Linked DNA regions of Homo sapiens. The protein of the gene in region 1 purifies or fractionates together with the protein of each later gene. This does not show direct contact. Each region holds a gene or a part of one and is shown in the gene's direction. Other genes may lie near its edges.

Region 1 (3,746 bases):
AGGTGCCCGCCACCGCGCCCGGCTGATTTTTTTGTATTGTATTTTTAGTAGAGACAGGGTTTTACCGTGTTAGCCAGGATGATCTCGATCTCCTGACCTGGTGATCCGCCCGCCTCGGCCTCCCAAAGTGCTGGGATTACAGGCGTGAGCCACTGCGCCTGGCCAGCTCTGACCTTTTTACAAGGATACACTGGGCCCTGGTTGGCGTCCAAAGCAGGCTGGTGCTGCGTCCTCACTGTGAGCTGGGCGCCTGCAGTGTGGCAGCCGTCAGAGGACACAGGGCGTGTTGGGCTGGCATTGTGCTTGGCCTGTAGTGACCACTTGGTGGACGAGGGGACATTGCCTCTCTCAGTCCCACCCTCGGGCCTTGCAGAAGCAGGTGAGCCTGGGCAGGGCCAGGCGCCCAGAGACCCTCTGTGGACCCCAGGCATCTCCCAGCCCTTTGGGCTGCCAGTCCTCCCTGTGCCTTCAGGCCACGTCGTCTGGACCGTAAACCTCAGCCTGGGACTCAGATCTGCCTGTGTCCTGGACTGAGCTGCTCTCCGTCCTTTTGGACTGGGCTCAGGCTCTGAGCCCACCCTCTCCCCTCTTCGGGAAGCCTCCAGGTCGCCTCTTCTCCAGGCCACACCTCTTGGGCACCTCCTGTTGCTGTGCCCTGGACAGAGGCGTCTACATGCTCATGTGTGGAGCGTTCTGAGCTGTGCCCATCACAAGCCCTGGCCCCCTGAGTGGAGGACAAAGGGCCAGGATGTGGAGGGAGGGACTCAGAGACAGACTTGCTCTAAGCTGGTTTGAGTGGGAAGAAAGGAAGTGTTAGAGGAGAGCCCGGGATCCCCACCGCATAGCCCTTCTGCTGCCACGGAGTGCTCTGCGGCCTGCCCTGCCCTGGCAGAGAGGCCCACACCAGGATGGCTCTTCCCACTTTCCTGCGATCAGGGACTTGGGGCTGACCCCTGCTGTCTCCAGGCTCCCTGGGGGCTTGGTGGAACCCTCTGACCTGTAGGCACCCCCAAGCTGGGCACGCCCAGGCCTGGGGCTAGGCCTGAGCCTTCTCTCTGCTGTGCCCTCAGTTCCCAGCCCCAGAGCCAGGGTCACCACGCTGTCCAACCCCATGGCGGCCTCGGCCTCCAGACGGACCGCACCCCGAGGTACCGTACCGAGCCTGCGCAGGCCCGCCTCCCCTTACTTGGTGCTGGCGGCCTCTAGTGTGCACTGAGTTATTGCGGGCACTAATGTCTCCCTCCACACCTGACACTAACGACCCGTCTCCCGAGCCCCAGTCCTTACCTCCCTGACCCGTGAGTCCTGCCCTAGAAACTAACACTGGCTGCCACCCCACGTCTCAGAATCTGTGTGTTCCAGCCCTCCTCTCGCACGGCCCTGCTGGGGTCCTGCCAACCACCCCTGCCCTGGGAGCTCAGCCCCCTCCCTGGAGGCCGGGCCCAGCCAGCCCCAGGTAAGTGGTGCCCTGGCCCCCTTTGGGTGCTTACCTGGCATCTCCTTCACAGGTAAGTGGGGCAGTGTCCGGACCAGTGGACGCAGCAGTGGCCTTGGCACCGATGTGGGCTCCCGGCTAGCTGGCAGAGACGCGCTGGCCCCACCCCAGGCCAACGGGGGCCCTCCCGACCCGGGCTTCCTGCGTCCGCAGCGAGCAGCCCTCTATATCCTTGGGGACAAAGCCCAGCTCAAGGTGACTGGGGTGCGGGGGGTGGGGGGTGAGGGTGGGGGCTCGGCAGGGGGCTTGGGGCCTCATGTGTCTCACGGGACTTGTCCGGATTCTTTTCAGGGTGTGCGGTCAGACCCCCTGCAGCAGTGGGAGCTGGTGCCCATTGAGGTATTCGAGGCACGGCAGGTGAAGGCTAGCTTCAAGAAGCTGCTGAAAGCATGTGTCCCAGGCTGCCCCGCTGCTGAGCCCAGCCCAGCCTCCTTCCTGCGCTCACTGGAGGACTCAGAGTGGCTGATCCAGGTCTCTGCACTGCCCCGTCCCTCTGCCCGCCTTGGTGCTGGGCCCTCCCCTTGGGTAGAGCCAAGTGGACGGGTCTAGGTTTGCTTGTCTGACAGTGTGGAGCGCTGGAAGGAGGAGGTGACAGCCACTTCCCACCCAGGCTCTGGTGCCTAGAAGGCAGCTGGGAGGCTGGGCCTGGCTGGGGCCAGCTGACAGTGAGAGTGGCCAGGGCTTGGGCATGGGTATGTCGGAGCAGCCTGCTGGGCCCACGTGGGCTGATGACCACACGGGGGATGCAGTTTATGGTTCTGGGCCCCTGCTGCATTCTCTCGGGGGTGGGTACTGACAGGATGCTGGCTTGGTAAACACTGGAGGGCTTGAAGGTAGGGCCACCGGCATCTTGAGGGACAGGGACGTCCCTCAGTCCTAGAGGGCTTGGAAGGGGGTGGGCTGTGACCAGCAGGCTGGAGGCGGTGGTCGGCACACCCAGAGCGAGCTGTGTTTGTCCAGTGCTCTGCCCGCATACAGGGCTTGGGGGGCTGTGGACAGGGCCTGCCTCCCCGCTGCCTGTGGACATGCGGGTCTCTGGCCTGGTGAGTGGCCAGGCGGGAGGGCGGTGGGTCCCCGAGGTGCTGAGGCCGCCTGTCCCTGCAGATCCACAAGCTGCTGCAGGTGTCTGTGCTGGTGGTGGAGCTCCTGGATTCAGGCTCCTCCGTGCTGGTGGGCCTGGAGGATGGCTGGGACATCACCACCCAGGTGTGTGGCGCGTGGGGCTGGGGTGGGCCAGGCTCCCGGGCTCCTCGCTGACCTCCTGGCGGTGCTGGCAGGTGGTATCCTTGGTGCAGCTGCTCTCAGACCCCTTCTACCGCACGCTGGAGGGCTTTCGCCTGCTGGTGGAGAAGGAGTGGCTGTCCTTCGGCCATCGCTTCAGCCACCGTGGAGCTCACACCCTGGCCGGGCAGAGCAGCGGCTTCACACCCGTCTTCCTGCAGTTCCTGGACTGCGTACACCAGGTGGGCAGGCCGCTGTGTGGGTGGGCCGGGACTGTGCACCCTGACCGCTGAGCCCTGGCCCCTGACCCACATGGCGTGCAGGTCCACCTGCAGTTCCCCATGGAGTTTGAGTTCAGCCAGTTCTACCTCAAGTTCCTCGGCTACCACCATGTGTCCCGCCGTTTCCGGACCTTCCTGCTCGACTCTGACTATGAGCGCATTGAGCTGGGTATGTGGGGAGTCGGGGCTGGGGCAGCCACGGGTCAGGAGGGGCCCAGGCTCAGTGCTGCTTCTGTGCAGGGCTGCTGTATGAGGAGAAGGGGGAACGCAGGGGCCAGGTGCCGTGCAGGTCTGTGTGGGAGTATGTGGACCGGCTGAGCAAGAGGACGCCTGTGTTCCACAATTACATGTATGCGCCCGAGGACGCAGAGGTAAGCTGGGGCCTGGGTCGGGTAGGCGGCTCCTGCCCGACCCAGGTCCTCAACCACAGGCCCACCCTCAGGTCCTGCGGCCCTACAGCAACGTGTCCAACCTGAAGGTGTGGGACTTCTACACTGAGGAGACGCTGGCCGAGGGCCCTCCCTATGACTGGGAACTGGCCCAGGGGCCCCCTGAACCCCCAGAGGAAGAACGGTCTGATGGAGGCGCTCCCCAGAGCAGGCGCCGCGTGGTGTGGCCCTGTTACGACAGCTGCCCGCGGGCCCAGCCTGACGCCATCTCACGCCTGCTGGAGGTGCGTGTGATCCCAGAGCAGGGTCTGGCCTGGCACCCCCCTCCTCTCGCTCAGACACCAGGGTCGTGCGTGTGTG
Region 2 (3,746 bases), on another chromosome or scaffold:
AACACGGCGAAACCCCATCTACTAAAAATACAAAAAAATTAGCCGGGCGTGGTGGCAGGCACCTGTAGTCTCAGCTACTCGGGAAGCTGACGCAGGAGAAAGGCGTGAATCCGGGAGGTGGAGCTTGCAGTGAAGTAGGATCACGCCACTGCACTCCAGCCTGGGCAACAGAGTGAGACTCCATCCAAAAAAAAAAGAATGGGGCCAGGTGGAGTGATTTACACCTATAATTCCTGCACTTTGGGAAGCCAAGGTGGGAGGATTGCTTGAGTCCAGTTTGAGACCAGCCTGGGCAACATGGCAGACCATGTCTCTACAAAAAATAAAAAATTAGCTGGGCATAGTGGTGTGTGCCTATAGTCCCAGTTACTTGGGAGGCTGAGGTGGGAGGATCATTGAGTCTGGGAGGTCAGGGCTGCAGTGATCCGTAATCATGCTACTGCACTCCAGCCTGAGTGACAGAGTGAGACCTTGTCTCAAAAAAAAAAAGTGAGTGGACTGTTTAGTTCACACTTTGAGAAACACTGCTTTAGGGGACATAAATTTTGATTTTAAAATGTTACTGAGTTTTTTTCCTAAAAGATACTTTAATATCTCCTTTGTGTCTTGTTATTAGGTGTGAAGATATGTGACGTGTATAACGCTGTCATGGACGTGGTTAAAAAGCAGAAGCCAGAACTGCTGAACAAAATTACCAAAAACCTAGGGTATGCCATGATGTCTATTGTCATTCTTGAGTCAGTTTTCAGTTAGACTGTCAGTGGTCAGTCTTATTTCTTTAGGCTAATTGATTGATTCAGCCAACATTTATGGACTAGCAAACTATACTATGTGCCAGGCACATGATGTTATCAGAGAAGGTGAGACAGATTTAAGTTCTCCCAAGTGTATAAGAGAGATTTTTCTAGACCAGTGTGGTGTTCCAGCCCATAGGTTTTCCAGGATATAATTACAGATGTTAGGAAATATTATCAATACATACTATATCTCCTCTCTCCGTGCACATTTGCAACTTAAGTACTCTGAGATGTCCTAATATTTTATTTAGAGACAGGGTCTCACTCTGTCCAGGCTGGAGTGCAGTGGTGCAGTCGTGCCTCACTGCAGTCTAGACCTTCTGGGCTCCAGCAATCCTCCCATCTCAGCTCCCCCAATAACTGGGACCAAGGCACGTGCCACCACACCCAGCTCATTTTTTTATTTTTTGTAGAAACAGGGTCTCGCTATGTTGCCCAGGCTGGTCTTGACCTCGTGGGCTCAAGCAGTCCTCCCACCTTGATCTCCCAAAGTGCTGGGATTACAGATGTGAGCCACTGTGCCTGGCCGTTTGTTTGTTTTGGGGGTTTTTTTTTGTTTTGGTTTTGGTTTTGGTTTTGGTTTTGGTTTGTTTATTCAATCCAGTGTATTTCTCAAATGTATTTTATACATTTCTCAAATGTATTTTATCACTGAACACCTAGAAATACCTAATAACGTGTAATGGAACAAAGGACATTTTGGGAAACAAAGCTTTATGTAGGCATTCTCTTTAGATGAAAACTAGTCTATGGTATATAGTTTCTAGACTTCTCTCATGGAAATATATACCTATATAACAAGTCTTACGAATCTGGTTTACCAGTGTTCCACTAAAAATTGCCCCTTTTAATCTAGTAATTACTGTCTTAGTAATGTACCCCTTAATAATCTCTATGTTGTTTCTAGGAGTACTACTGACTTGATTTTATGGTAGAAGGTTAAAGTTTAAATGTGGGCAAATAAGCTAAAATTAAAAAGGCTCGATATAATCAATTAGGAAATTATTTTTCGCCATGGGATTATACAGCATGTTTAGAGGCCAAAGACTGTCTTTGAATCCTCTTTTCTAACTGAGCGGTCAGCAGGGGTAAATCATTTCAAACATGTTTGCCTGTCTTATTGTGAAAGTTGAAATGAATATGTTATGCTTGATCCATGTTAGAGATCTTTAGCCTTTTGCTGATGTTTATCTGTTTCTTTTCAGGTTTGGGATGGGAATTGAATTCCGTGAAGGCTCCCTAGTAATCAATAGCAAAAATCAATACAAACTGAAGAAAGGTAAGTTTCACATACAATAGGAAAATGCTTTTGTGAGTTACTTCCTTTAGCTTTATTTTCTTTTAGGCATATGTCTCACACCTCTCCACATTGTCACAGCCACAGACTGATCCTTGTTTTGCTGTTTTAGGAATGGTTTTCAGCATCAATTTAGGATTCTCAGACCTGACTAACAAGGAGGGGAAAAAGCCAGAAGAGAAAACCTATGCCCTGTTCATTGGTGACACAGTGCTTGTGGATGAGGTGTGTATTGTGTCTAAACTTTGGAGTCTTCATGAACTAACTTCTGAGGCACGTTTGTGGACCCTGTGGTTTTTTTCTTGCTTTGTTAAATGCTAGCTAAGGGGAAGAATCCGTGTGACAGCCTAACCTAATGCAGCTAGGAATAGAGACTGTAGCCCAGGTATAGGGAATGATATAAACCTTTAAATCATATTGTCATATTGTGGCTTGAACCTTGATAATGATAATATCAGGAACTAATACTAATAATGAAACCGGTTATTCTTTTTTCTTTTTAATAACAGCTTTATTGAGCTACAATTCACATACTATACAATTCACCCACCTGATATGTACAATTTAGTGATTTTTAGTATTTTCACATTTGTGTAACCATCACTACAATCTAATTTGAAAATATTTTCATCACCTCAGGAAAGAACCCTGAACCTATTAGCAGTCACTCCCCATCCCCCTTCCCTTCCCCCACTGGTTCTTCAGGCCTAGGCAATGACTAAACTGCGTTCTCTCTAAGGATTTGCTAAATATCTGAGCAGTTGATGTAAATTCAGTCATACCCTATGTGGTCTTTTGTGACTGGCTTCTTTCCCTCAGCGAACTGATTTTTAATAATAGTGAGCACAGATAGTTCAGTGTTTTTATCATAAGCTAAGCAGTTTACATTAATTCATTGAAATAGTACCTTGTGAAGTAGATACTCTTATTACCTCCATTTACAGATAAATTGAAGGCACAGACAAGTTTAAGTAACTTGCCAAATGTCACTGAGGTAGAAAGCAACTGAGCCAGGCTTCAAATCAAACCTGTATTAGTGATTACCCAATGTTGCCTCCCAAATTGTAGCTCTTGGCTGGGCGCAGTGGCTCACGCGTGTAATCCTAGCACTTTCGGAGGCCAAGGCAGGTGGATCACCTGAGGTCAGGAGTTTGAGACCAGCCTGACCAACATGGTGAATCCCCGGCCCTACTAAAAATACAAAAATTAGCCAGGTGTGGTGGTGCGCGTCTGTAATTCCAGCTACTCGGGAGGCTGAGGCAGGAGAATCACTTGAATCCGGGAGGCGGAGGTTGCAGTGAGCTGAGGTCACGCCATTGCACTCCAGCCTCGTTGACAAGAGTGAAACTCTGTCTCAAAAAAAAGAAAAAGAAAAAAAATTGTAGCTCCTGACGAGAGGTTAGAGGTTAGAAGGATAAAAACTATATTTATTCATTGTCAAACATTTTAGTGTCCAAAAGATTCAAAGCATTGCCCAGCCGTTTACTAGGTTAGAAAATGAAATTGCCTCTTTTAAATAATGTGTCTTCATTCTCCTTTTAATTCTAGGATGGCCCAGCTACTGTTCTCACTTCTGTGAAGAAGAAAGTGAAGAATGTGGGGATTTTCCTAAAGGTAGGAAGAAGATAGATAAGTAGTATAGGAAGTTTAGG

What was found. Proteins that work in one complex are often made in the same cells at the same time.
Region 2: the proteins of SBF1 (region 1) and SUPT16H purify together in Homo sapiens (affinity purification with mass spectrometry; 2 studies listed by BioGRID and IntAct, with this or other methods). This does not show direct contact.

What each region holds. Positions count from the first base shown.
Region 1 is NC_000022.11:50,454,436-50,458,181, reverse strand, and holds part of SBF1 (myotubularin-related protein 5), read left to right. Parts: intron 1-1,070; coding exon 1,071-1,148; intron 1,149-1,508; coding exon 1,509-1,690; intron 1,691-1,786; coding exon 1,787-1,966; intron 1,967-2,599; coding exon 2,600-2,701; intron 2,702-2,772; coding exon 2,773-2,958; intron 2,959-3,039; coding exon 3,040-3,166; intron 3,167-3,237; coding exon 3,238-3,368; intron 3,369-3,439; coding exon 3,440-3,670; intron 3,671-3,746. UniProt on the Homo sapiens protein: Acts as an adapter for the phosphatase MTMR2 to regulate MTMR2 catalytic activity and subcellular location. Promotes the exchange of GDP to GTP, converting inactive GDP-bound Rab proteins into their active GTP-bound form.
Region 2 is NC_000014.9:21,363,400-21,367,145, reverse strand, and holds part of SUPT16H (FACT complex subunit SPT16), read left to right. Parts: intron 1-616; coding exon 617-707; intron 708-2,002; coding exon 2,003-2,076; intron 2,077-2,206; coding exon 2,207-2,319; intron 2,320-3,642; coding exon 3,643-3,708; intron 3,709-3,746. UniProt on the Homo sapiens protein: Component of the FACT complex, a general chromatin factor that acts to reorganize nucleosomes. The FACT complex is involved in multiple processes that require DNA as a template such as mRNA elongation, DNA replication and DNA repair.